7 linked regions of the Homo sapiens genome follow. The protein of the gene in region 7 purifies or fractionates together with the protein of the main gene of each other region. This does not show direct contact. Each region holds a gene or a part of one and is shown on either strand. Other genes may lie near its edges. The genes, in order: PRMT3, CNTNAP3, ASB1, SP3, EPDR1, ERC1 and TSHB.

Region 1 (4,038 bases), on a different chromosome or scaffold from region 7:
ACATTTGTGTTCTTCCCCACACAGCAGCCAGATTGTTACTTTCTCAACACATCTGAGAGCATCACTCCCTGGCTTAAATAGTTATGTCTGAGCACTTTACATGTATTAACTCGTTTTATCCTTACTGTAGTTCTGAAGTTAGTCCAGGTTTTTTGTTTTTTGTTTTTTTTTTTTTAAGATGGAGTCTTGCTCTGTTGCCCAGGCTGGAGTACGGTGGCACAATCTCGGCTCACCACAAGCTCCGCCTCCCGGGCTCAAGCAATTCTCCTGCCTCAGCCTCCCAAGTAGCTGGGATTGCAGGCGCGTGCCACCACACCTGGTTAATTTTTGTATTTTTAGTAGGGACAGGGTTTCACCATGTTGGCCAGGCTGGTCTCCAACTCCTGACCTCAGGTGATCCGCCCGCCTCAGCCTCCCAAAGTGCTGGTACTATAGACGTGAGCCACCGTGCCCTGCCCAAGTGCAGTTATTATCCTTGTTTTGTATTTGATGAAACTGAGGCAGAGAGAGGTCGAGTAACTTGCCCAAGATCACAGTTACAAAGTGACGTGGGTAGGATTCAAACCCAGCAGGCTGCCTCTAGAGTTCACGTTCTCACTTAACCAAAGATTAAAATCCGTCTTGGGGGGTTTGACACCTATCTGTCCCTGCAGTAGACCCACCCTGGCCCATGCAGTTCGTTCCCTCTCGCCAGCTGCACCCCCTCCAGGACCTGGGAGCCCAGAAACCAGCCGAGCCTCCAGCGTTTGGCCTCCTCCGCCACCAGAGGGCGTCATGGGCCGATCGCCCCTCCGCTAACCGCTCATCCCAGGAAAAAGGGGCGCACAGAGGACAGGATGCCAACCCCAAAACCGCAGCGACGTCTCTCTGCCTTGGGGCTCACAGCAGCGGGCCGCGACCTCCCACTAACGCCTGCCGCAACCCAAGGAGGAGACAAAAGTCATCTTCCGGGCTGCAACATTAACCGTCATCAGCGCGCCTCTTCAGCGCGCACTGCGCCAACCCTGCGGCAGGAGGAGGCGGAGCCCCCGCTCTCGCCCCGCCCCCACCTCACGTGACCCGCACGGCGCCTCGAGGCCGGAAGCGATTGCGAGCCAGCGCGCGCGCTTCGGCGTTCCCGGCGGTCTGCGAAGTTTCCGGAGCCCGGGTCCCGCCGCGGGTTCGCGCTTGTGCTCGCGCTCGTTCCTGGAGTCGGCGGCCGCTGCGCGCGCTCGTTGCCCAACCCGGTCCCCGCCCCCAGACACGCCGGGCTCTCGGGGCACCACAGCCATGTGCTCGTTAGCGTCAGGCGCTACCGGTGGGTACCCTGGCCCCTCAGCACCCGGCTCGTCCAGCCCCAGGCCGCGCCGCTGTGGGGCCGGTGGAAGACCCTCCGGGACACGGGCCCGGGCAGGGTGGGGGGCTCGCAGGGATCATGAAGGAGGTGCTGAGTGAGGGCCGCGGGCGAACGGGGCGGAGGAGAGCCCATCGTCACCTGCTCCTCGAGCCCCCGGGCCGCACCGGTGTCCGAGGCCGATCTGATTGTTGTGTGTGTGTGTTAGGCGGCCGGGGCGCTGTGGAGAATGAGGAGGACCTGCCAGAACTGTCGGACAGCGGGGACGAGGCCGCCTGGGAGGATGAGGACGATGCAGATCTCCCCCACGGCAAGCAGCAGACCCCCTGCCTGTTCTGTAACAGGTTCGTCCGCCTCAGCGCCTGGCCTCTGCCCTAGGGTGCCCGGGCGCGTGGGGTCTGTGTGCCCAGGAACGCCTTCGGGCGGGAGGCAAGCCAGAGTGGCCTGTCTTTGAATTCTGGAACCACTGGTCTGGGGTGAGGGCTTGTGGAGAAGGAGGACCCTCGGTAGTAGAGAGGGGGAACCGTGAACTGGAAGGCCGGTTGTACTGCAAGCTTTTGACTGGTAGTGCATTGAATCTGTGGTTCCCAAATCTTGTCACTTGAGACGCTGAAAACAAAATGATACTGAACTCTGCACCTGAATCCTTCCAAGTCAGGGATGGGGTCTAAGAATATTCTGTTTTTATGAGGACAAGATCGGAAGTAACAGTGAAGTTACTAACGAGTTACTACTAACGAGTAACATATTTGGCAGCCACCCTGAACTAGATAATCCCTACGGAGCCTTCCGGCTTTACCATGCTAATTCTTTGACCAGTACAGAGCTTCTCAGGTGAAACATTTCTTTTTTATTTGAGCGGTTTCCATAGTCTAAGAAGGAAGTTCACCTTACTTAAGTAGGACTTTTCACTTAAGGAAAAAGACTGTAGTATCAATAATTTGCTCAAGGTCACAAAGCTGTGGTGTGCTTATTTCCAAACTCACATTCTTGCCACTTAAAATTCTGCCTGTTAGTCTTGGGAAGCTTTGGCTCCTGTCCTAGGCAAGTAGGCATGAAAGAGGCCCGGTTGGCATTGGCCGGTGTTACTTTAATACATTTTCCAGTGTTCCCTGTATCTGGGCATGGTGCTGAGTGGTGGTGCGTTAGTGTTCTCATCTGTAGCCCCATTGGGTAGATAGAATGCCTGTATATATTCTAGTTGTCATAAAATATTTATTGAGCACCAGTGGTACCGTGGCTGTGATAGCCTCCATAAATAGTCGACATAACCTATCTCGGTAAACATTTGTGGAAAACTAATGCTCCACATGTGTTAGGAATATAGATAAGGTATACAGCTTCTCTGCTGTGTATTCCTGTCTTTAAGTAGCCTTCAGATTTGCATGTCACATAATAAAGAGGATTGATCCTCACAGTGTCTGTGATGCAAGTACGTTGGGAATACTACAAGATCACTTTTGAAATAAGGCACTTGGGGAGTATGCCAGCTGTAAAATTACATTTTATGCTTTATTTCTAAAAGCAGTTTGAGCTGTGCCAGTTCAAAGCCTCTGAAAGCAGAGTTGACACTTAGAGGAGAAAAGAATCTCAAGTAGAGAAATTGTATGACTTGAGAGAAACAGACTCTATCAAAGGGAACTCTCTTAAAAGCCTTTTGATAAAATCAGTGATATTATTTGACAAATAAATTCACTTTGACATTTAAAGGATAATTGGTTTTAGGTATAAAATGGGACTCAGAAGTACTAATTCCCTTTAAAAGTGCTGGATTCCCTTCCTTTCAGATACAAGTGTGTTTGTTTTTTCTTAATTGGAAGTAAAACTAGAAACCAGCAGAGTTAAAAAAAAAAAAAAAGTGTATATGTAACATGAAATCAGTATTTAGACTTCTTAGGGGACTATTCCATGAAGCTATTGCTTGATTTTTCAGGTTATTCACATCTGCTGAAGAAACATTTTCACACTGTAAGTCTGAGCATCAGTTTAATATTGACAGCATGGTTCATAAACATGGTGAGTAGTTTTTAGAATAAAGGCAATTTAATTTGTGAAATTTGGGCAGGCATGGCAGCTCACACCTGTAATCCCAGCACTTTGGGAGGCTGAGGTGGGTGGATCACTTTAGGTCGGGAGTTCAAGACCAGCCTGGCCAACATGCTGAAACCCCACCTGTACTAAAATACAAAAGTTATCTGGGTGTGGTGACGCACACCTGTAATAGCAGCTGCTCAGAAGACTGAGGCAGGTGAATTGCTTAAACCTGGGAGGCAGAGGTGGCAGTGAGCTGAGATGGTATCACTGCACTCCAGCCTGGGCAACAGAGTGAGACTCTTCTCAAAAAAAAAAAAAATCTGTGAAATATAAGTTCAGATTTTATAGTTTTTCAGACCCTTTTCTGTACGAGTTTAATATGGCGAATCACACAGCAACATCTTGTGGAAATGGAGTTTTTTTGACAAGCGGTCCTTGAGAAAAGATGAATAAGTCACTCTTCTAGACAAGATTCACTGTATTTAAGCTTATATTAGCTTTTCAACTAAAAACAAAAACAGACTTGGCATGTGATTACATTTTTACATTTTATGTGATTACATATTAGATTTAGGGAGAGCAAGTGTAGATGTAGGACTTGAAAAAGGACGCAGGTCATTTGAAAAAAGACAATCAGCTCAAAGCATGACATGAACTTCACAGCCTACGAG
Region 2 (3,500 bases), on a different chromosome or scaffold from region 7:
TGCTTTTTAAAATAGTTAAGCACTGAAAAGGGTAAGAAATATGACATTATACTTTCTTTTATAATTACCTGCACACTTACCTTTATTAGTGCTATTTGTTTTTTGTGTGTAGATTCAGATTATTGTCTGGGTTATATCCCTTCAACCTGAAGGAACGTTCTTTGTTATTTCCTCTAATGCAGGCTAATAGCAGTGAATTCTCTGTTTTTTGTAAGTAGGGATATATTTACTATCTTTTTTAATTTTTAGTTTTTATGAATACCTAATAGTTGTACGTTATTTATGGGGTAGAGGTAATATTTTGATACAACCAAACAATGTGTAATGATCAAATCAGGGTAACTGAGATATCCATCACCTTAAACATTTATCATTTCTTTTTGTTAGGAACATTCCAGTTCCACTCTTCTAGTTATTTTGAAATATACAATAAATTATTGTTAACTATAGTCATCCTGTGCTACTGAACATGAAAGACGGTTTTGCTGGGTGTAAGTTTCTTCATGACAATAGTTTTCTTTCATCTCTTTGAATATGTTATCTCACTGTCCTGTGGCCTCCATTCTTTCAGATTAGAAGGTAGCTGTTGATCCTGGCGTTTCCTTGTATATATGATTTTTCTCTTACTGCTTTTAAAATTTCCTTCTTGACTTTGGCTTTCAAAGTTTTTAATAAGATGTGTCTGGATATAAACTTCTTTGTGTCATCTGTATTTCACTGAGTTTCTGTATCTTAGATTAATGATTTTTATTAATTTGGGGGTGTTTTCAACCATTATTTTTCAAATATTTTTTTCTGATCCTTTCTCTCTCTCCTGGTATTTTCAATTACGTATATATTGGTGTGCTTAGTTATGTCTGATATTTCTCTGATGATCTATTTTTTTCATTATTATTTCTCTGTATTCTTCAGGATACATAATCTCTATTGATCTTGCTTCAAGTTTGCTGACTCTTTTTTCTTTTCTCTGTTAAACTTCCCTGGCTTAACTCATTACTCTCTTGGAGTTATCAAAATTCTCTTAATTGCTTACTGCCAATATCTTCATACCACTATGCTTAAACTTATCCATCCTCTGTTCCAAATAGAAATCAGTTCACTTGGGGAGGGCTACCAAGCTGTGTATTTTCATGGCCTCCCTCTACCTCTTGGTTGAATGTGCCTCACTGCTCTGAAGCTGTGGGGAGTGAGAGTGGCCTGCTCCTTTGTAGTAAAACCTCTGCTTACAAGTAGGGCACAGGGTGGGAAAGGTAACTTCTTGCCTTGCCTCTCCTGGTGGAGAAACTGTTCCTTACAAGTAAGCTGGAGTGAGGGCAATTGGGACACAGGATTTTCCAGCTGCCACACCTGAAGACCTTATGTCCTGGAATGAGGAGTTGGTGTAGGAAGGAAACCCCAGACTTCTCAGCTGTTTCTGCGTGGACAGAGCTTCTGTCCTACAAAACTGGGGATGACAAGAAATGCTGGCACCCAATCTTGGGGTAATGCAGTATCTCTGGAGTAGGACCTGGGTAGAGAGGAAACCTCTGGCTTCTTGGCTATATCCATATAGAGTGGAGCTTCCGTCATACTGAGCTAGGGATGGGGAGGTGCTGGGAGAGGGTCTTGGCTTAAATGCCTCAAACTCTCACTATTATTACTGATTAATAAATGTTTCTTCATTTGATGTATTTCCTTAGGACATCTTCTAAAGACTTTCAATAGTTGTTTTTTAAAATAATAATTTTTACTAGTTATGCTTGTTTCGTATGAGAGAGGGTTTACAGAGCTCCTTATGTGGCCAGCCTGGAAATGCCAGAGTACCAGGTTTTTTATTTGAATGTTACCTCCTCTTTAAAAATCGATTTGCTTTGTAGGAAGCATGAAACAGAGCTCCTGAAGTAACTAGAGAAAAGGTGATTTGAAGACCAACCCTCCTTCAAGGTCAGAATTTAGAAATGTTCTTTTATGCCAAAGATGTTTCTCAAATTTACTGTCTGGATAGAAAGGCTAATCCAAAGTGGTATCTACAGTATTCTGAGAGAGAAAAGTTGAAGGGCTTTCAGATTCTCTTAAAACACTTTATGAAAGGTTGATATTTTAATTTTATATCAAGTTAATTCCAAAAATGTGTTTAGTACACACATACACATACACACACCCCCCAAATATATCTGTAAATAAAAAGACAATGTTGGGTGATGATCATTGTCTTGGAATACTACTCCACTCTTTCCATTTCCATAAAATATAAAGAATTTACTGAAAATCCAGATCATTCTTATTAGATTAGGTAATCTAACTATAACATATGCCCCAGCCACTGGAGGACCATTTTCCATTTACTTACTATATAATGTCTATCCTTAAGAAAATTTTGGGTTATAAAATAACATTCAAATTGCACTTAGCAAATGTGGATTGGGAATGATTTAGAAATCAGCACTTGTGCTCATGAAGGAGTGGTTACTCCTGATGTTGGCTTGAGATATAAAAAGGGCTCTGTATTTGCACCAGAGCTATGAGATTTGTTAGCACAGAGATCTTCAGGAATGATAAAAGACACATGCAAGACCTTTTGAAAATTTAAATGACTTCTAGATAATGAATCCTCAAAATTTTTTTGAAAGTCACACAATTTTATAGTGATTAAAGCCTGTTTTGCTGCTAAAAATAGTAAGTGTAACAGCCCAGAGACACTTAAAAACACAACTACATTTTAGCTCTGATGATTCAATATTGTAAGAGGTTTCATAAAAGTATTATAAATATATTAAATAAGTCAGTACAGAGTACTTAATACTAAAATCAGTCCCTTTTTCCTTTTCTTTTTTTTTTTTTTCCCCAAGACGGAGTCTCACTCTGCCGCCCAGGAGTGAGTGCAGTGGTGCGATCTCTACTCACTGCAACCTCTGCCTCCCGGGTTCAAGCAATTCTCCTGCCTCAGCCTCCCGAGTAGCTGGGATGCCCGGCTAATTTTTGTATTTTTAGTAAAGATGAGGTTTCACCATGTTGGCCAGGCTGGTCTTGAATTCCTGACCTCGTGATCCGCCTGCCTTGGCCTCCCAAAGTGCTGGGATTACAGGCATGAGCCACCACGCCCAGCCCTTTTCTTTTGAAAACATGATTGTACCTGAGCAGAAGCTGTGTGATACCCCACTGCACTCCTCTAAGAAGAGTCAAACATCATAGAGCACAGTGTTTGAGTGATCCTGTTAATGACTGTCAATATTTAAATATTATTTTCCCCTTCTAGTTAGTATGCTTGTTTTATAAGAAAAGACATTTCTATAAAGGCCTTTTGAATCACTTCAAGTCATTGTCACAAGGGACAATGGGTAAGACGATTGCTCAAGCCTAGGAGTTCAAGTCCAGCCTGGGCAACAGAGAGGCTTGAATAGCAATACGTTGTCTCTAAAAATTAAAAACAAAAATAACAATGATGGTTTACTGATGTTAAAATTAGAACAGTACAAGGACAGAGTTTTGAAAACCAAATTATTTCAAGAGGATTAGCATTG
Region 3 (4,041 bases), on a different chromosome or scaffold from region 7:
TCTCCTGACCTCGTGATCTGCCTGCCTCGGCCTCCCAAAGTGCTGGGATTACAGCCATGAACCACTGGCGCCTGGCCTATTACACTCTTAATAGATCATAGTATCATGTAAACATAACTTATATATGCACTGGGAAACCAAAAATTTCATGTGACTTGGTTTACTGCAGTATTCACTTTATTACAGTGTTCTGGAACTGAACACACACTATCCCCAAGGTATGCCTGAATGTGATAAACCGGCATCACAATCAGCGAGAATGGAAAAGAGTATTCAACAAACAGCATTTGTACAATCAGATACTTATTAGGAAATAATTGAGTTATTCACCTCACATCATAACCCAAAATAAACTCCTGAAGATTTAAGAGTTTTGTAAAAATAGTTACACAGATTCGTGTGTAAGTAAAGAGCAAAAACTCAGACCACTTGGATTCAAGTCCCTGCTCTGCCATGCTGTCCTAGTGTGAGACCAGACAGGCAGGTATAAAGCACCCCCTCCATAAGGGGGCTCTTTCCAGATGCTGACATTGTTTTTTATATTAAAATTAATCTCTTTTCAGTACTACTGTACATGAGACTCAACCACAGGTGAAACGGGGGTGATGAGTAAGTGTCCCGGCTCTGCAGGGTTTGACAGTCCACTGAGTTGCTCATGCTGATCCCACAACCAGACTCGCCGCAGATCAACAAGCCGGCATGAACAGCTCTTTAAGCCACCACCCCAGTCTTCCTTCAGTAACTATCCTCCCCTGTAATTACTCCACAGTTGCGGTTACTACAGAGTGAAAAAGTTCAAAGTCGGAGTGGGAAAGATTCAGGTGTAGGGCAATAACCAACAGGTAAATGGCGGCCACAGGACTTTTGCTGAGCCCTCTTCTGGGCCCCCTCTGCTGGCCTCTGTGCTATCCATTCCTGGCCCTGCTCAAAGTAGACTCAGAATCTTTCCCCAGCTCCAGATTCAAAAGCAACTTCAAGTTTGTGTTTCGCTGATCAACTACTCCAATGACAACACAACTGCCCCAGGATAGCACTTAAGCTTCAACTGAAAATCTGTTGCCCCTCTACCCGAGGCCGAAACACACTGAATAACAAAACAGCAGTGCATGAGGATATAAAAAGGAGCCCTCAGCTGAGTGTGGTGGCTGCCGCCTGTAATCCCAGCACTTTGGGAGGCAGAGGCGGGCAGATCACCTGAGGTCTAGAGTTCGCTATCAGCCTGGCCAATATGCCAATATGGTGAAGCCCCGTCTCTACTAAAATACAAAAATTAGCCGGGCATGATGCCAGCACCTGTAATCCCAGCTACTAGGGAGGCTGAGGCCAGAGCATCGCTTGAACCCCCGAGGCGGAGGCTGCAGTGGGCCGAGATCACGCCACTGCACTCCACCCTGGGCAACAAGAGCGAAACTCCGTCTCAAAAAAAAAGGAGACCTGTGCAGCCGACAAAGCCAGTGTTTATTCCCCAGGAACTCTCTTTATACTGGGAAGTAGCTGTTGGTCCTCTTTTTCCCACGGAACACGCATCATTCCGTCTCTCACTCTCACATGAGATGACATCCTAGACCCTAAGGTCCTGGCTGTCTCTGAAGTCAAAGTCAACGCCAACCAAAGCCCAGGATGGTAGATGCTTTGTCTGGCTTTTTCTGGTCACTGCAGTATCCTCTGCTGGGTCTAGCCAACAGCAGGTCTTCAATACAAGTCTGTTAAATGATTGGAAGGAGGTGCAGAGGGAGGGATGGATGGAAAAGCCTATCTGCACCAGTCTCCAAGTCAATCTTTTAAGATGTTTAAGAAATGTATTGGTTTATTACTAAGTAGGAGAGGAACCCCTCCAAAGACAAATATAGGCATGTAAAGAAAGCCCAGAACACACGAAACTATTGGCGCGAATGGCAAGCTCAGAAATCCAGCAAGAAGGAACTCCCACCACACCACCGGGAAACGGGAACCTGTCCTGACCGCTTCCTTCACATCTGCATGGTAGGGACACTGCAAGGTGGAGACCCTAAGTAGGACAGTTATTTTGGAAGGTGGGTGTGAGCCTTTCTATCTGCCTCCCTTGCTGGTGGGCCAAAGGCCCCTGGACATGTTGTGTCACTGACGAGCTCGCTGGAGACGGCGTCCCCGTTGTCCCTGGTCTGTGCCTGTGGTGGGTGGGAAGGCTGCCCCCCGCTGTACCACCGGACACGCCGTGGGCGGCAGAATGGTGAAAAAGTGCCTGCCCTCCCTAGGGCTACCCTCTGGCTGGCTTTCCTGATCCGTGCGCTCAGAGCTGGAAGGTGGCCCACGTCCTACTTTTGCGGTTGGGTCATATCAAATCTGTATCGGCTAACGGGAAGGAAGTTACGAGCAAGTTCCACCGGAAAGAAAATCTAGCGCGGGGACTGCACTCGAGGCCGAGGAGAGGGCAGCGCGTCCGTGGTGGGGTCGCCCAGCACTGCGAGCCGCGCTGAACCCCACCCCCGGCCTGCAGGGTGCGGCTCCCTGGCTGCCCCGTGGACCCGGCCAGCCCGGGACGAGGACGCAGGACCTCGGCAGGGACGCCGGAGCCAGCCCTTCGCCATCCCCACACGCCCCGCGGCCCAGTGGCCGCGCGCACGTTACCTGCGGAGCCCGGCCCTGCCCGCCCGTCTGGGCTGCCGCCCTCCGCCATGGATGCTTCCGCCTCCGCGGCCGCCCCTGACCCGCGCACGCCCCTCGGGCAGGAAGCAGAACGACCCGCGACCACTTCCGGCGCCGAGGGCAATGGGGGGCGCGTCGGGGTCGCGGCTTCCGGCGGGCGCGCGCCGGCCTCACTGGTTTCCGGGGCCGCGCAGGGGCCACGCCTCCGCTTCCGGCCTCGCTGTCTAGCAGGGCGCTGGCTGGTCCCTTCGTCCGGCGGGAACTTCGCGGCTAACCGACTCTCTGGATGCCGGCCGCGCTGTGGTTTCCTCACATAAGAAGCCAAGGAGTCGGAAAGCCCGTTGCCTGAGGCAGCAGTCTGGGAATTTCGGTCCGGCGGGCCGTCCCCACCCACACGGACGGGGCGTGGCTTCTGCCAGATGTGGGCGGGGCCCCGAGGGCCGTGGCGGGCGGGACCCGGGCCTCGGCCGGGCTGGCTTGGTCCCCGCAGGTGCCCCCCGCTAGCCACGAGCAGCCCCGGGAGGGTGGATTCGGAGGCGCGGGGACTGGTGAGGGCCCACTGCAGGGCTGAGCGTCGCAGCGTGCTGTGGTTTTAGATGAATGCTCCTCCAAATCCCTTCCATGAAGCCCTCAATCAGGTCGGTAACTGATGACAGCCAGTGGCTGACGCGAAGTTCATTGAATAAATGAATGCATTCGTGAACAACCGAGTAACATTTCTTGCACACTCCCAACTTCAAATATCGCAGCGTCGTCCCACCATGAGTATTGGTGTTGGTCCTAAAGCACGGATTCCCTTGGCTCCTCCCATTCTCCCCTGCTGAGTTAGACAGCGGGGCCTCATGCAGGAGGAGGATTTGTACACAGCACAGCAGGAGGCTGATGAGGGAGTCCGGAGACCCCAGCAGTCGTGGGCGTGAGCTGCTGGCTCATCCGTGTGTACAACATTCCAGACTGGAGTAAGGGAAGCCGCAGGCGCAGCCCCGCGAGTGCCCCTGCTGAGGCTGGCCCTGGGTGGCCCAGATGCACCAGGGGGCCCACTGGGGGCAGACCTGGCAGGCCCTGTGGGGGTTGGAGGCGGGAGTGGGGGTACTTCCTACAGTGGTGTTTGGTCTTGATGACAGCAGAGAGCACCACTGGCATGAGGGACAGGTGACTCCGATGATGACGCTGCCAGGCCAGGAGCCAGGGGTGTGCCCAGCCCCTGGCTCCACCACAGCTGCACATCCCGAACTCGGAGCTTCAGCAACTCCGAAGCCTGAAGCCGCCTCACGTGTTGTTGGATGGATGAATGGATAAACGAAATGCCGTCCATCCATACAATGGAATCGTACTCAGCCTTAGAAAGGAAATGCTGTCCGTCCATACAATGGATTCGTACTCAGCCTTAGAAAGGAAGGGAATCCTGACACACGT
Region 4 (3,500 bases), on a different chromosome or scaffold from region 7:
GATAATGTCTTCTATTTAAAATTCAACATGGGGATATATGATGTAAATGGTAATGTCCATTTGAATATTTTCATATAAGTATATATTATTCTATGTGTGTTTTTTAGAGGTACCAATCTTGGGAAAAAGAAGCAACACATTTGTCATATACCAGGATGTGGTAAAGTCTATGGGAAGACCTCACATCTGAGAGCTCATCTGCGTTGGCATTCTGGAGAACGCCCTTTTGTTTGTAACTGGATGTACTGTGGTAAAAGATTTACTCGAAGTGATGAATTACAGAGGCACAGAAGAACACATACAGGTTACTAATACTTACTTTTAACAGACAAAAATGAATTATAGGGCTACATAACTGCCTTGACTTCTTTTTTATTAGCATTCCTTACTGAACTGAATCGATTTAAAATACAATGAATTACATCCAATTTTTACCTTTAGTAACACCATCTTAATAACACAAATTCCAAAGAACAAGTCAGTCTGGCTTATCTTCTAAAATAAAGTTATATTTAAGTAGACTTTGGGTGGCTTTTGTTGACATTATTGAATGCTTTAAACCACATTTATACTATTTTTATTCTGTTAACATTTTTAATTAGTTGTCAGCTTTTACTCTTGATCTATCCTATTTTTTTTCTTTCCTCTTAACACTGTAACAAAAAATACTCCTGTTTCTTCTGACATATTTGGGCATTTCACCTTTTCTTTTGTTTTTAGTATCTCTGAGGTAAGGGAAAGGTATTTCACTGAGGAATAACCAAGGCAATGTTGATGTGAAGACTTTCTCTGATTATATTATTTTTACATAGTGTTGTGTGGTTGTTAAATGAAATGGACCTGTGACTGATCTACACTGAAACCTAACAGTGTTAACTTAGAGATAGTTTTTTCCTACTACCATGTAAATGATTAAAGTGTTCATCAGTCTATGCTCAACACTGGAGAATTGAAAACTATGTATTTACAATCCCTAGAGAGCTTGGAAGAAGCATGGTAAAATGGAGAACAACATGGATTTTGAAGTCATCTGGATTCCAATCCAAGTTCCCTATTAGGTTAAGCGAATAAACTATCTCTGACGTTGCTTCACATATCCTACTTTGGCCTTCAGTATTGTATAAAATTACCTATGAAGTCTGTAGTAGTATACAGATGCTCTAATAGTTTTAGTTCCTGTCTCTCATTGGGTAGGTAGACAGATGAGATTAACCTACATGAAACTGCAACAGACAATTAAGAAAGTAGATAAGGCTGCAGGGCGTGCTGGCCCATGCCTGTAATCCCGGCACTTTGGGAGGCCAAGGAAGGCAGATTGCTTGAGCCTCAGGAGTTTGAGACCAGCCTGGGCAACATGGTGAAACCGTGTCTCTCCTAGAAAGACAAAGAATAGCCGGGCGGATGGTGTGTACCTGTAGTCCCAGCTGCTCAGGAGGCTGAGGTGGGAGGATTGCTTGAGCCCATGGGGCGGCGGTTGCAGTGAGCCAAGGTCATGCCACTGTACTGCAGCCTGGGTGACAAAGTGAGATCCTGTCTCAAAAAAAAAAAAAAAAAAAAAAAGGTAGATAAAAGATTTTGCGTTGCAGTCTGCTGTTGAAAAGGCTCAGAAACAGAGATAATTACTGCTTGGGATAGTAAAGTATGGGATAATAGATCTTATGATGGCCCTGTTAACAGAATTTTCCTCAGTAGGATTTTATCAGCAGGTTGTAAAAAGGAATAATGTAAAAGGGAGAAAAAGGTCAATGATCAAATAAGTGTAGGAAATAGTGGGCCAAAGAGGGTATAAGTACCTTCAAGGCAGTACCTCTTAGGACCTTTAAATTAAATGCTAGATTGACAGCTTGCATCTATAAGTTAGTGATGTAATGTGTGTGTAGCATTTCCTAACCTTGTGCCGTTTGCCATGGAGTACCTCTCAGGACTAATGTTACAAGAGAAACTGGGAAATACTTTAGTAGAAAAATGGTGGTATGTTAATAGAAGAAGTGAGAGACCTTTTTTTGTAGCGGTGAATGAGGATGAGATTTTACATAACATTTCTGTTAAGTAGGATTGAGGCACACTTTAAAGGTCCTTGTAAATTAGGCAGTGGAGCATCTAAACTGTTACGTCATCTGCAAGTTACCCTTGCATTTCCATATCACTTAATATAATCTTGAAGTTTTCTGATGTAATAAAATTTGGTCTTTAAGGAAGATAGTCTGGAGAGAGAGAGAGACTAGGATGTGACTGCAGTATAGTTCAAGCATGAGGTCTGATAAAGACCTATGTAGAGTAGAGGTGCTAGAACAAAGGATACAAGCTAAGACATTTTTGAAGAAAGGAATTAAGAAAATATTTACTAGATTTATTGATTGATTTTTATTGATTTCTCTCTGAATTCCTTTTAGGTTGGCCTTTTGTCTTCTCTTTTGGTAATCTTGCAGAGTCGGTCTTCAACATAATAGAAGTTCAGTCTGTCTTTTGTATTTAAACTTACTTTATTCATGCTGGGAAATAAATTTAGGCATCAGGATTTTAACAGCTTTAACATCTTAACATATTAGGCTTGTTCTTGATTGTTGTAGCTGAAGTCAAGTCAGCTAGCCAGATTCATTTTTCTAAGGATTACTCATTCTTTTTGGATCTCAAGCTTGTGGTGTCATTTCTTTAATCTAGAAGTACCCTGTTGCTTTAATTCATATTTAAGAGTTGAAGGTTTAGTATCATGAACATGGCATGTTAGTATTTTAATTATAGCGTGAAAGAATATACTTTTATTTAGACTTTAAAGTGTGTTATAGATGCTTATTTTTTAGCTGGCATCTTAACACAGGTATTTCAAACAAACTCTTAGCGTAGTTGAGATATTAAAGTCTTATTTGAATATCCATCTATTATATAATACATGTTTGAAGACTGCTAGTCATCAAAAAGTAAAGATGAAAGATTTAAGGAGAAATATTCTGTAAGAGAAATCTGGCAGGGGTAGCTCGTAAAATGAATACAATTTTAATAGACCCCTGCTCCCATCCTCACCTGTCAGCGTTGACTTACTTTCTGTTTTGGGGGAGATGATTGAGCTATTAAAGTTGAATTTTTAAAACCAAGTAACTTAATTTTTTTCTTAACAGGTGAGAAGAAATTTGTTTGTCCAGAATGTTCAAAACGCTTTATGAGAAGTGACCACCTTGCCAAACATATTAAAACACACCAGAATAAAAAAGGTATTCACTCTAGCAGTACAGTGCTGGCATCTGTGGAAGCTGCGCGAGATGATACTTTGATTACTGCAGGAGGAACAACGCTTATCCTTGCAAATATTCAACAAGGTTCTGTTTCAGGGATAGGAACTGTTAATACTTCCGCCACCAGCAATCAAGATATCCTTACCAACACTGAAATACCTTTACAGCTTGTCACAGTTTCTGGAAATGAGACAATGGAGTAAATATTACACAAATACTTATTCATTGTGGTTATTTTTATACAGTAGTGAGAAGAATATTGTTCCTAAG
Region 5 (3,500 bases), on a different chromosome or scaffold from region 7:
CACATATTATTCTCCAGGAAAAGTAACCAGGGCTTCTTGAAAAATGGTTTATCCTAGGACTGGGGCAGGAAAAGTATAGATGATCTTGAAATATCTTGCTGTGCCGGAAAGCAAGGAAGTGCCCAAACACATCAAAAGAACATAGAAACCAATTTGAAGAGGCTTCCACTGGCCAAATCTAGGACATTATGAACAGCAAAGTAAACAACGAGAGCAAATAGAACAAAATTAGAAGGCTTGAGTCCACACTGATACAAATAAAGTATAATTCAGAAGATTAATGAAGAATGGGATATGTACATGGTTTTAAAATATTTCCCTACCAAATCTTACTAATTAAAAAGAAAAAATGTATCATTTCACAGTGAAGAAGGCTGGCAGACAACAGTCAATCAGGTGATCAAAGTGAACATCAGGATGCAATTGGAACAGAGTATTATCCCTGATATTCCTGCCAAAGGTAAGTAACTTGAATCTAATTATGAGGAAACATCAGACAAACCCAAATCAAGGAACATTCTACAAAATAACTGGCCTGCAATCTTTAAAAGCACTAAAGTGCAAGGAAGACTTAGGAACTATTCCAGACAGAAAGAGACCACAGAGACACCACACTTAAGTGTAATGCTTGCATTTAAATCTTTTTTTTTTTTTTTTTTTTGCTATGAAGAACATACAAAGAACAACTGGCAAAACATGAATGACACCTGAATTTCAGATGGTCAAAATGAACTGGTGTTAATCTCCTGACTTTTATGGTTGTATTGTGGTTATGCAGGAGAATGTCCTTGCTGGGAGGAAATACACTGAAGCATTTGGGGATCGTGGGTATATCAGTTTGGCAACTTACTATCAAACAGTTCAGGCGAGGGGGAAGCTCTTTGTATTATAATTGCAACTTTTCTGTAGGTGTGAGATTGTTTCAAAATAAAACAAAATTATGTATTTGAAAAATAATCCTCATCCTCCTTTCCAAACACATAAGATTACTGAAGTTACCTTAGGTGATAGCAGCCCTGGGAATTAATCATCCACAGCTGATACTTGGACCAACACCCCTATAAGCAACACTATTCCATTCTTAGTAGGAAGGGAGGCTCAGTTGAGTGCAGAGCCTTCTGAGTTTGGGCCCGAGGCATTTCAAGGTAGCCTCTTCTCTTTTTCTACTCATAAGCACAGGCTTAGATGAAAAAGAGAAGGAAGAAAAAGAACTTTGAATTAATTTGTCTACACAATGGGACAGATTGAGAAAAAATTTAAAATCTGTGTCAAGTTCATTGCATTAGAAACAGTGAATCAGCCTGATATAATAAAAGTACAATTGGTGCCTTCAGGATATCATTTAATACTATCTGTACCTAGCATTTAACAAATGAAAGCCTAAAAGTGATTTAGTATCAACATTGTAGGCATCATTCAAATTAAATTAAAAGATGAAAAACACAGAGGTTCTGCAATGTTGAGGACCTTATTGGGGTGAAGGCAGGATTAGAAGCCATGGTTGTCACTCCATCATGGTCTAACATGAATGCCCCTGCTCTCTCCACTACAGGAGGCTGATTCTCTGTTTAAAAAAGAGGTTAATGCTATTCTCTTCTCCAAGAAATAATATGCTCTGGGAGAATCAAGAGAAGCAGACATGAATTAATCAGAATTTGAATAAGAATCCACCTGCTGCCCCATTTGTGACATATTTTTCATGTTTTACAAATACAAATCCTTAATAGAACATGTACGACTGGTGATGAAATAATATTCCAAGATACCAGACTGTGCATATTGTTTTACTGCCTCTCTGCTCACTCTGCATTAAGAGCTTCATTGATTCCAACACCCAAGCCACCATTTTGTAAGGGGGAGCCTATAGTTACTGGTGGCCTGAGAGGGTTCATTGTGTATCAACGCTGCTTCCCCTATAAAGTTCAACATGCTGCCTGAAATATGAAAATCATCTTCTTGATTTCCTTCAGTCTTTCAAATAAATACTTGTGAATTTAATCAAGGAGTCAGAAAAGACAGTTGGAATTAGAAAATAAAATGGTATCAATTACTAATATTTCCCATTTGCTGCTCAGGCTTGTCTTATCTGAAGCTTGTAAAGTTGTTTAATCTTTTCCATCATCTCAGGGAAAACAGAGCCTGGAAAATCCTAGTCATTCCACAGTAACTATCAATGGGATTTTCCATAACTATCTGGATGCAAAATGAAAATCTTAAGAAGTTGATCCAATTCTAAAACTTACTTCTCAACTTACTCATAAATATGAAGAGACAACTCATCCATATTTTCTTCAAATAACATCTGGTTGCTTGGCCAGACTGTTAATACCTGAAAAAGTTTCTGAGTTTGTTCCAACAAATCTACACTTAAAGAGCTTAAAAATGTGTTTATGCATTAAACATTCTTTTCCACATCTGACTTAGGGCCAGCGATGTGACTGTCAGAAAGAACCTTGCCAAGAACTCGGAAAGAAAGGGAAAACAATGTCTTTTAGAAGTTTAACTGTGAAACCAGCACCTATTGGATTAGGGCAGAGGAATGAGAAATCACCGCAAAGGGACAAAAATGCTTCTAAGCCAGCAAGAGTTGGCTGTGACTCCACTAAAGGTATAAAACACACATCTAAAGGCTATATTAGTCAGTCATGGAGTCATGGAAGAAGGGTTGCTCAGACAGACTTGAGCAGTACTCACCAAGGGTCCATTCTGAGTGGAAGGGGTCAGGAACAGCACAGTTGGGGTAGCACAGAACCACCACCAAGTCATCTCTATTGTGAAAATCAATGCATCACTTTGCCTTTGCCTGATTACCATTAAACCTTACCCCAGGCTGGCCTGTCTTATTCATGATGGAAAACTCCACATTGAGCATACAGCCTAACCTAGGGCAGGCAATCATTAGATGTTTGCTCAATGAATTTGCTCCAACTCTTTGCTCACAACTGCCTGATGATAATTTGGCTCCCCACATAGTTCTGACTACAGGGAGAGAATGACCTAGTCTGGTGGATTTGAGAATGCTGGTCCTCATGCCAGCAATAAGACTCATTGAAGTAGACAGGTTTAGCATTTGAGTTTCCTTACTCGAAGGTTGTTCCCAAAGGAAGGGTCTGTGTGTGCTGCTGTATCAAGTTTCTGAGCCCAAAGGGCTGGCAGCAAGTCTCTGGGCTATGGTAACTTTACCAGGATAATGATGATAGTGGTAGCGATGGGACCAACCTTGGCCATGAACAGAGCATCTTGTGCGTACTATCAGACATTGTACTGTATGTTTTATACACTTGAGCTCATTTAATTCCCATAATAATCCAATAAATTAGGCATTATAAGTATTCACATTTTGTAAATGAGGATACTGAGACTCAGAAAGCTTTATTAACTTACCCAAAGACCCATATTCAGAGTCTGGATTCAGATCCAGATTTGTCTGACTCTAAAGTCTAATTTTTTTAATTGTAAAAAAAAAAATACTACCTTTGGAGAGATGAACCCTTATCCTT
Region 6 (4,249 bases), on a different chromosome or scaffold from region 7:
ATCTCGGCTCACTGCAAGCTCCACCTCCCAGGTTCAAGCAATTCTCCTGCCTCAGCTTCCTGAGTAGCTGGGGTTACAGGTGTGCACCACCACACCCAGCCAATTTTTATTTTTATTTTTTGAGATGGAATCTCGCTCTGTAGCCCAGACTGGAGTGCAGTGGCATGATCTCGGCTCACTGCAGCCTCTGCCTCCCAGGCTCAAGCAATTCTTCTGCCTCAGCCTCCTGAGTAGCTGGGATTACAGGCATGTGCCACCACGCCCAGCTAATTCTTATATTTTTAGTAGAGACAGGGTTTCACCATGTTGGCCAGGCTAGTCTCGAACTCCTGACCTCATGATCCGCCTGCCTCGGCCTCCCAAAGTGCTGGGATTACAGGCATGAGCCACGGCGCCCGGCCAAGAACCTTCACTTTTAAGTTTGCAGTATTAATGTTGAATTAACAGACTGGCATACTTATCTATGACACAGGTAATGAAGGAAAAAAAACACCTCAGTAGACTCAACAAGGATATCACAAGTAATGACTAGCAAGCAACATTTTTTGAAAAATAAAATGTAGGCATAATTTCAGGCACAAGAAATGCTAAACGAAATAGCTTACTTTTACCTTAAGACTTTCCCCAAATTATGTGATTTCATTCCTACAAGGACAAGAATCACAGCTTACTACCAGCCATGCAAATGTCATTTTAGGAGTACACACAAGTTTTACCCAGTATCTTAGTTCACATTTGTCCCAATTAATTAAGTCTATGTATAATTTAAAAGCGAAAACTAGATATGTCAATTTTGTTTTCCTTCTAACTAATCCAAAGTCAAAACTGTTCACTTTACCAAATGAATTAACTGAATACAGTTAATTAAATCTTTTATTTATAATTAAAAATTGGAACACACACTTTCTCACTTAATACCTATTATGTCCTGTTTCCCATACCTCTCTATAAAGTAGAAGTATTTGCTGGAAGACAATAATCTGCTCATTAAGTAGGCACTTAGAAAAAGCAACGATCTGCAACTACTGAAATTCTTATCTGTATATTTCTCTTTTGGGTTACAAGAAAGCACTTCTCTGGCTATTTTCCCAAATAAACTAGGCAAGCCTTGGGAAAGTCACTGCTTAAATCCCACTTTCTGACAGCTTCTCTTCCTCCATAAATGAATTATTGAGAGCCATGTCTACTTCCATCCATTACATAATACATGTCCATCATGGGACCTGTTTTCTGAACAAGAAATAGCTTAAATGACACTAACTGATAAGTAGGGCCAGAGAATACTGTAATCTAACAGGGAGCAAGAATCCAGAAAAGAAGATTCTGATTTACAGTGCTAAGTTGTGAAAGAGTGATGTGAAGAACATTGAACACTGCTTACTCTAATATTTCCATACAAAGTGACACACCTGCCCCCAAAATGTTTTTAAAGCACTTGACTCCAAGAACATTTCTCAGAAATTGAGGAGCCTACCAAAAAAAAAGAGTTCCATTTCATTTTAAAGTGTTTTAATAAAGACTGCAAGAAACATAACTGCAAATGAGAAATAAAATTTCAACAATTTAGCACTGAACACAAAATGTCTAAAAGTCAAGGTGTACTGAGCAAGCAACACGCTATAAAAGACGGTTGTACTTTAAAACATTTAAGCATTTTTCATATAATTAGCTCCAACAGAACTATTCCAATTGTTCACTTTATCCACCCAAAGCAGTCAACCACAACCACCTGCAACTATTATTCAGCAATGTGCCTTCCAAAGCAACCACCTGAGTTTGGGGCCTTCTCTCAAGGGGCCAGGATAAAGCCTGTAAAAGGGTGGTATAAAGAGATCTTTTAGGCATTGGGGGGAAAAAAAACTGGAAGACACCACCTTGAAGGAGCTAAGCGTAATGCGACCCAAATGGTGGCTGCCGGAACGAAGTTGTCTAAACCGAAGATCTCCCTCTTCTTCGGTGTAAAACTTTCAGATACATCCACGCTCACAATTTACCTGAGCCAAAGTAAGGGGATTCTCTTCCCTCTCCGACCCCCCACCCACCCCGCCAGAAGAAAAAGAATCGAACCCTAAAGTAGAAACGTGAGATCTAGTGCAATAAAATAGGTTCTGCAACTGCCTCAAAGGCAACATGCACAGCTCATCGTCCTTTTGAAATACACTTCATCTTTTATCTCACCATTTCATCGAAAAGAAAAGAATCATCTTCAGCATTTTACATCACTCACCTAACCCAAAGATCCACCCTGACCGCACCCCAACCTCATGGCTCCCCAATTTCTCCGTCTCCCCACTACCTCGTCCGCGGCTTCACTAGTCCTAAGCCTCCCCCCCTCCGCTCCCCAAGTGCCCAGAGCCCCAGTCCCCACTCCCCCACCTCCCGCCCCAGGATCCCCACATCTACCGCCTCGGCTCCCGCCCGATCCCGGAGCCCGGCTGGGTGGAGCCCGCGGGTGGGCGCCGGTGGTCTGGGTGGGGCCCGCCCCTCCCCACCCCCCGGGCTGCCGAGGAGGGGGAGGGGGTCGCGAAGCCTCACCTACAGCTCCGCCCCTCCCCGGGGGCGCGTTGCCCTGCCCAGCCCAGCCCGGGCCGTGAGCAAGAAGCTGGGTAGGAAAGGCGAAAGCCTCAGCACTAGCGACAGGGGGGAAGCTCTGGGTCCCGCGCGACTTCCGCGCTGTCGCCGCCGCCGCGGCCGTCTCACCGTCCTCAGGGCTGCCGCTACTGCTGCTGCTGCCGCCCAGGCACCGCCGCCGCCGCCACTACCGCCGCCGCCGCCGCCACAGCACGGCCCAGGCGCCCGCGACGTCACCGCGCCCCGCCCCCTGCGCGAGACACCTAGCCCCGCCCCCAGCCCCGCCGCGGGGCGCAGCGCGCCTCCCCGGGCTCCCGGCTCGGCTGCCTCCCTTTCCCTCAGCCTCCCGGGAGCGTGACGCGGCGGCCCGGGGGCCTCCGGGCGCCTTCCGGGGCACGCGGGTGAGGAACTGGGAAGCGGGGGAAATCGGCGCCACGGCGGTCGATTAGCACCGAAACAGAGTGATGGGCGCGGAGCGTCCCTGCACACACACACACACTCACACACACACACACACGACCCCTGCGGCCACGGGAGGGGAGAGCCGGGGTCGGCTCCGCGAGCGCAGGGTGGCGCTTGTCTCCTCCTGCTTGCCGTAGGAAGTGGACGCTGGAAGCCCGAGGAGCCGCTTCGTGTCTTCCCAAACCTAAGCGGCGCCCCACCCCCTACTTCTCGTGGCCCGTTACGCCCGGGGCAGCCAAGCGCCGCGGGAGCAGCGCCGGGATCGACCCTGGCTGCTGGGGGGACGCTTTGTCCCAAGAAAGCTGGTTTTTTGCCCCTTAGCTTCGTGGAACGCGGCCGCGAAATTAGTGGTCTTCTGACCTGAGACTCGCGGGGCTGCGCACACGGGCATCGCCGAGGACCCCAGCAATGGACGTCGTGTCTGTGGTGATCCCGCCAGGACGCGGGGAGCGTGGGCGGAAATTAGTGTCCACGTTCCGACCCTGCGCTGTGCCAAACGCTGCTTCGGGAGCTGTTTATTTAGCCTCCGACAGCTAAGCGAATCGGCGGGCGGCTGGGGCCTGGTGCAACCCGATTTTCTCGTGCAGACTCGCAGCCGGCTTTGGTTTTGTTTTTTGTTTTTTGTTTTTTTTTTGGAGCCATGCAGAGGGTAGCTACAGCCATTAATTTAAGGATGTAGATAAGCTATCTCTAAACCAAGAAAGTAAGAATGGTGTGAATTATATTTATTCCCAGCCTTCCAGTGTTTATTAAAATAATTTTCGGTGTCCTTGAGAGGAGTTAAAAGCCATCATTTTACTCCTGCTTACCTCCGCCACCGTAATTAACCACTTTATACTGCCTCATAATCCCATTAACAAATTGCAGTCGCTCCTCAGCCTTCACATTCATTCACTCACCAGTTTCTACTGTTTCATCCTGCCCGGACTCTTAACTGTTCCCTCCCAGGATCGACATGCACTTGGATCATTGCAGTTTCTGGGCCTGCTGTCATCTCCCCCTTCAGTACTTCCCACATATGACTACCAACTGTTAGACGATGTGCTGCTGCCAGACCAGCCTTTCATTTCTTGGACATCCGGCTATTTACCCAGGAAAAGTCATCCTTTGACTATTTTTCATGACCTTTCTCATCTGACTCGTGATCTGCCCATCTTGTTACTCCCTAGCAGTGTGGTAAGGTAAGAGAAAATTCAACTAGGAGTCAATAGATATT
Region 7 (3,993 bases):
TTGAAGATTAAGAAGAATTTTTTTAATCTTACAAATATTGTACAGCTAGCTAGATGTGTTTGGATTTTTTTCCTTCTCAAGTATCATTGTCAGTAAAGAAAATATATACCTTAATGGAGTAGTATTGTGGTCTATGAACATAAACTTGTTTGCTTGTTCTATTAAATAAAATATAATTTACTAAATATTTTGTTCAATAATCAGAAGTACCAAGATTTCCCCAAATCTGTCAGTTATATCCCAACAGCATCTTTAAGCTATATACACTAAAACCTCTGTAAACTGAAACCTCATAGGTTCGGCCTTGGTTAACCAGGATTTTTTTTTCAATCAACTTATAAGAAACCATGAAAACCACATTACACAGGTTACCAGGGATTTATTTTAAATGTCAAATTCCAGAGATCAGTGGTCATTTCAATCAACCTTCTATTCCTAGAATGAGAATTGTAGATAAATTAGATAAACATATATTGAGCATCTGAACCAGGCACTGACAAACACAAACGGAAAAGCTACGGTCCTTTACCTAAAGGGCTGACTGTCCAGTGGAGGAGCTAATATGAACACAAATAATAAAAACGCAGATTGTTCTAGTGCTCTGAAAGAGTCCAAATTAAGACTTTAAGACCTACAATTATCAAAGATTTATGTTTACTATACTTCTTATTACACAAGAAAGTAAACTAACCCATTTTAGGAAGACTTAACTTTTAAAGGTTAAAATAACAGGGGTTTTTCTCACAAATTCTTTTAAATGAAATGTTGCATATTCAAACATTCCACGGAAGGTTTGTTTGGTATTTGAGTTAAGGAGCAAAAACATACAAATTCCTTACTCATGGAATCTGGCTTTCTCAAGCGCTTCTCAAATGTGAGCTCCCTCTATGGTACAGAGTTGCTTCCAGTATTTTAGAGATACAGAACTTGATGATCCTCTGTAGGATCTTAAAATTACTAACTGGTAAATTATGTAAAATGCTTACCCATCATGGCCATTATAGTTCTTGCTTGTTTAGACAGCCAGCTACTGAGTTTTTTCTATAGGAAACAACTAACTTCACATATTTTAACTTTTAGCTCTATAATTCTGTATAAAATCAATGTGGTGACCTGGTGATGAAAATATTGGTCTAAAAATTAAGAAACAGAATTCTTCCATAAATCTATGAGAACTTGACTAAAATATATAATCTGTTTGAGTGTTATTTCCCCATCTGCAAAATAGAAAGTGACAAGTACACCTGACCCTTTTTAAAATGTAGGATGAAAATTTGTTTTGGTTTTCCTATTGTCATACTAACTATGGATACTCTATATTTTTTTGAAGTTTCTCCTATAAATGTAGAACTCTAAACTAACAAAAGTAGAAAATGGAAGTGCTGAATTACCAGCCACAGTATCTGTACAACTTTGTGGGCATAAAGAAAGCAAGAACTTTTCTTTTCCTTTACTTCTTTATTGCGAATAGTAAAACTTCACCCACAGAATCTTTCTGGGCCTCAACTTTCTCACCTATAAAAGCAGGGCTTAGAGCCAGAAGATGATCATGAAAATCTTCGCAGCACAAATAGTCTGTAATTCTATATGATAAATTAGTGTCAGATCTGATTGATTGATTAAGAGTTAGTGATCTAAATTCTACTTAAGGATTTAATTGTAATTGTGTGCAACTGAGCAATTTAATATCTTTGTGCCTTCATTTTTCCATATGTCCCTTCCTAAAATCATAAAAAGAATAAAACAATACATGTGAAACACTTGGCTCTCTATATAAGAAAGATCACATAGCTGTATAACACTGTACAAATCCGCGTTAGTTAATCCCTTCCTCTGTGATATGCCACAATTTCTTCCTCATTGTCATCTGGGTTCTCATCTTTGCCACTTAATTGCTTATTCTGAAATCACCATGAATAATTTGTTGGGTACCTAAACATAGAAGGCATGGTTTCAGGCAGGGCCTAAATAATGAGATGCCTTCTTCAGATGCATGGACATATATGTCCCTACTTTGAACGTATTTTCTTATTCCAAGATATGTTCTTTCCTTTGCCTCTTTCCTCTCTTTTTTTCTCTTATTTTTGCTCCCAATGCTTCATTCTTAATAAACACTTTCCTCTCTGCTCTGCTAATTTCCTTCATTAATTTTTACTCTCCAAATCCCTTACTATGAAAAGAACTAATTGCCCATCCTATGAATAATCCTGGAACTTCACTAAAGCAGTATATTTTTCTAGAAAGCAAAATGTACTATACAGCAGCTGTGTGTGTGTTGAACACTATCAAAGGAGGTTTAGCTATTAAATAACTAAAAAGAACTTATAATACAGAGTACATTACCCCAGCAGGTACTCAAAAATGAATTTGCTCTAACATTCCCGGAAGTACATTTTCATAAAAGATGGCCATTAGTACAGTAATTGAGAGGATTTAATACACACATCATTAAATGGACAACAATATTTAAATCAAAATGAAAACAGAAGAAAGCCATGAATATCAAATATCCTTCATTAGGGAACTAATCAGTTGTTTCTCTTTCTTTAAGTCAATGAATTTTTTCCTTATCCTTATGTAGGTAGTTCTCTCACCTCCATCTACTACTAAACAATTTGGAGCAGTAATTTAAGATATTACAGCCTGTTGAAGCAAATTATCTTTCAGCATTTGCCACTTTCTAAAAAATGATAAAATGGTGAAAGTGAAAAAAAATAGCTTAAGAACATATCATTTCACAGAGCCTTCTCACTATAGACACCTACCTTACTTTGCATTGGTGAGCAGATGCTGTGGTGACCCAAACTAAAAGCTCTTGGTTCATTTTATACCCTTCAGGATAATCCCTCTGATCTTCTTGTTTATACAATTGCATTTGATTTACTGCTTTCTTATCTGAAAAGCATCTATTGAAAATTCATACTGAATTCCAAATAAAATGTATTTAGACAAACAAGCTCACAATATCTTTACCTGGAAACTGACATTATTAAAGCATGCATTTTCCTCTCTTCTGTTTCAAAATAAAATTACCTTTTAAATATATTCTTTATTAATATTTATTTATTAATATTAATAAAAGATAGATACAGAATGGGAAAAACCAAATTCAAAAAACACTCTAACATCATCTAAATAAGTCTTGGGAATAAAAATTTATTTGGGGCTTGAGGGCTTCAAGTTTTACCTAAATGTTCATGTAAAGATATATAAAATTATTCCTCATCTAAAAATTTTGTTTAGAACAAAATGTGTAGTTCAAAATATTTTTGGGGGATTTTAAGATATTAAGTAAAATTTACACATGTGAAAGAATGACTCTGAGGAACATGGCCACATCTGACAGGATGTCAAGCTGACCTGAGATAAAATTTTGGCCCTGCCATTTACTTGCCATATGACATTGGCATGCTTGACCTCTTCAGTTTCTATTAAAAGGTAATATCACTTCTCTAATGATTTGTGGTGTGAGCATTTTTTCATATGCTTATTGGCCATGTATATATCTTCTTTTGAAAAGTGTCTGTTTATGTCTTTTGCCCACTTTTTAACGGGGTTCTTCAGTTTTTGCTTATAAATTGTTTAAGCTCCTTATAGATTCTGGATATTAGACCTTTGTCAGATGCATAGTTTGCAAATATTTTCTCCCATTCTGTAGGTTGTGTGTTTATTATGTTGATAGTTTCTTTTCCTGTTACATCAGGTAACAAAAGTACACGATCCTAGAGAGATGGGAAACAAACAGGGAGAAACTGCCTGGAGAAAGTTTCTGGGCCATAATGCAGAAGCCCTTTAGTTAAAGGTCCCATTTGTCAACTTTTGTTCTTGTTGAAACTCCATTTGTCGTCTTCGTCATGAAATCTCTGCCCGGTCCTACATCTGGAATGATATTTCCTAGGTTATCCTCGAGGGTTTTTACAGTTTTAGGTTTTACATGTAAGTCTTTAATCCACGTTGAGTTGATTTTTCTATATGGTGTAGGGAAGGGATCCA

The links.
Region 1: the proteins of TSHB (region 7) and PRMT3 purify together in Homo sapiens (affinity purification with mass spectrometry; 2 studies listed by BioGRID and IntAct, with this or other methods). This does not show direct contact.
Region 2: the proteins of TSHB (region 7) and CNTNAP3 purify together in Homo sapiens (affinity purification with mass spectrometry; 2 studies listed by BioGRID and IntAct, with this or other methods). This does not show direct contact.
Region 3: the proteins of TSHB (region 7) and ASB1 purify together in Homo sapiens (affinity purification with mass spectrometry; 2 studies listed by BioGRID and IntAct, with this or other methods). This does not show direct contact.
Region 4: the proteins of TSHB (region 7) and SP3 purify together in Homo sapiens (affinity purification with mass spectrometry; 2 studies listed by BioGRID and IntAct, with this or other methods). This does not show direct contact.
Region 5: the proteins of TSHB (region 7) and EPDR1 purify together in Homo sapiens (affinity purification with mass spectrometry; 2 studies listed by BioGRID and IntAct, with this or other methods). This does not show direct contact.
Region 6: the proteins of TSHB (region 7) and ERC1 purify together in Homo sapiens (affinity purification with mass spectrometry; 2 studies listed by BioGRID and IntAct, with this or other methods). This does not show direct contact.

What each region holds. Positions count from the first base shown.
Region 1 is NC_000011.10:20,386,478-20,390,515, forward strand, and holds the start of PRMT3 (protein arginine N-methyltransferase 3), read left to right. Parts: upstream 1-1,238; 5' UTR 1,239-1,269; coding exon 1,270-1,297; intron 1,298-1,541; coding exon 1,542-1,677; intron 1,678-3,266; coding exon 3,267-3,349; intron 3,350-4,038. UniProt on the Homo sapiens protein: Protein-arginine N-methyltransferase that catalyzes both the monomethylation and asymmetric dimethylation of the guanidino nitrogens of arginine residues in target proteins, and therefore falls into the group of type I methyltransferases.
Region 2 is NC_000009.12:39,096,168-39,099,667, forward strand, and holds part of CNTNAP3 (contactin-associated protein-like 3 isoform 1 precursor), read right to left. Parts: intron 1-3,500.
Region 3 is NC_000002.12:238,425,686-238,429,726, reverse strand, and holds the start of ASB1 (ankyrin repeat and SOCS box protein 1), read right to left. Parts: upstream 2,801-4,041; 5' UTR 2,657-2,800; coding exon 2,608-2,656; intron 1-2,607. UniProt on the Homo sapiens protein: Probable substrate-recognition component of a SCF-like ECS (Elongin-Cullin-SOCS-box protein) E3 ligase complex which mediates the ubiquitination and subsequent proteasomal degradation of target proteins.
Region 4 is NC_000002.12:173,909,874-173,913,373, reverse strand, and holds part of SP3 (transcription factor Sp3), read left to right. Parts: intron 1-107; coding exon 108-304; intron 305-3,116; coding exon 3,117-3,433; 3' UTR 3,434-3,500. UniProt on the Homo sapiens protein: Transcriptional factor that can act as an activator or repressor depending on isoform and/or post-translational modifications. Binds to GT and GC boxes promoter elements. Competes with SP1 for the GC-box promoters.
Region 5 is NC_000007.14:37,923,640-37,927,139, reverse strand, and holds part of EPDR1 (mammalian ependymin-related protein 1 isoform 1 precursor), read right to left. Parts: intron 1-3,500. UniProt on the Homo sapiens protein: Binds anionic lipids and gangliosides at acidic pH.
Region 6 is NC_000012.12:989,774-994,022, reverse strand, and holds the start of ERC1 (ELKS/Rab6-interacting/CAST family member 1), read right to left. Parts: upstream 2,801-4,249; 5' UTR 2,701-2,800; exon of another isoform or gene 2,536-2,700; intron 2,474-2,535; exon of another isoform or gene 2,404-2,473; intron 1-2,403. UniProt on the Homo sapiens protein: Regulatory subunit of the IKK complex. Probably recruits IkappaBalpha/NFKBIA to the complex. May be involved in the organization of the cytomatrix at the nerve terminals active zone (CAZ) which regulates neurotransmitter release.
Region 7 is NC_000001.11:115,028,633-115,032,625, reverse strand, and holds the start of TSHB (thyrotropin subunit beta isoform 1 precursor), read right to left. Parts: upstream 2,801-3,993; 5' UTR 2,766-2,800; intron 1-2,765. UniProt on the Homo sapiens protein: Indispensable for the control of thyroid structure and metabolism.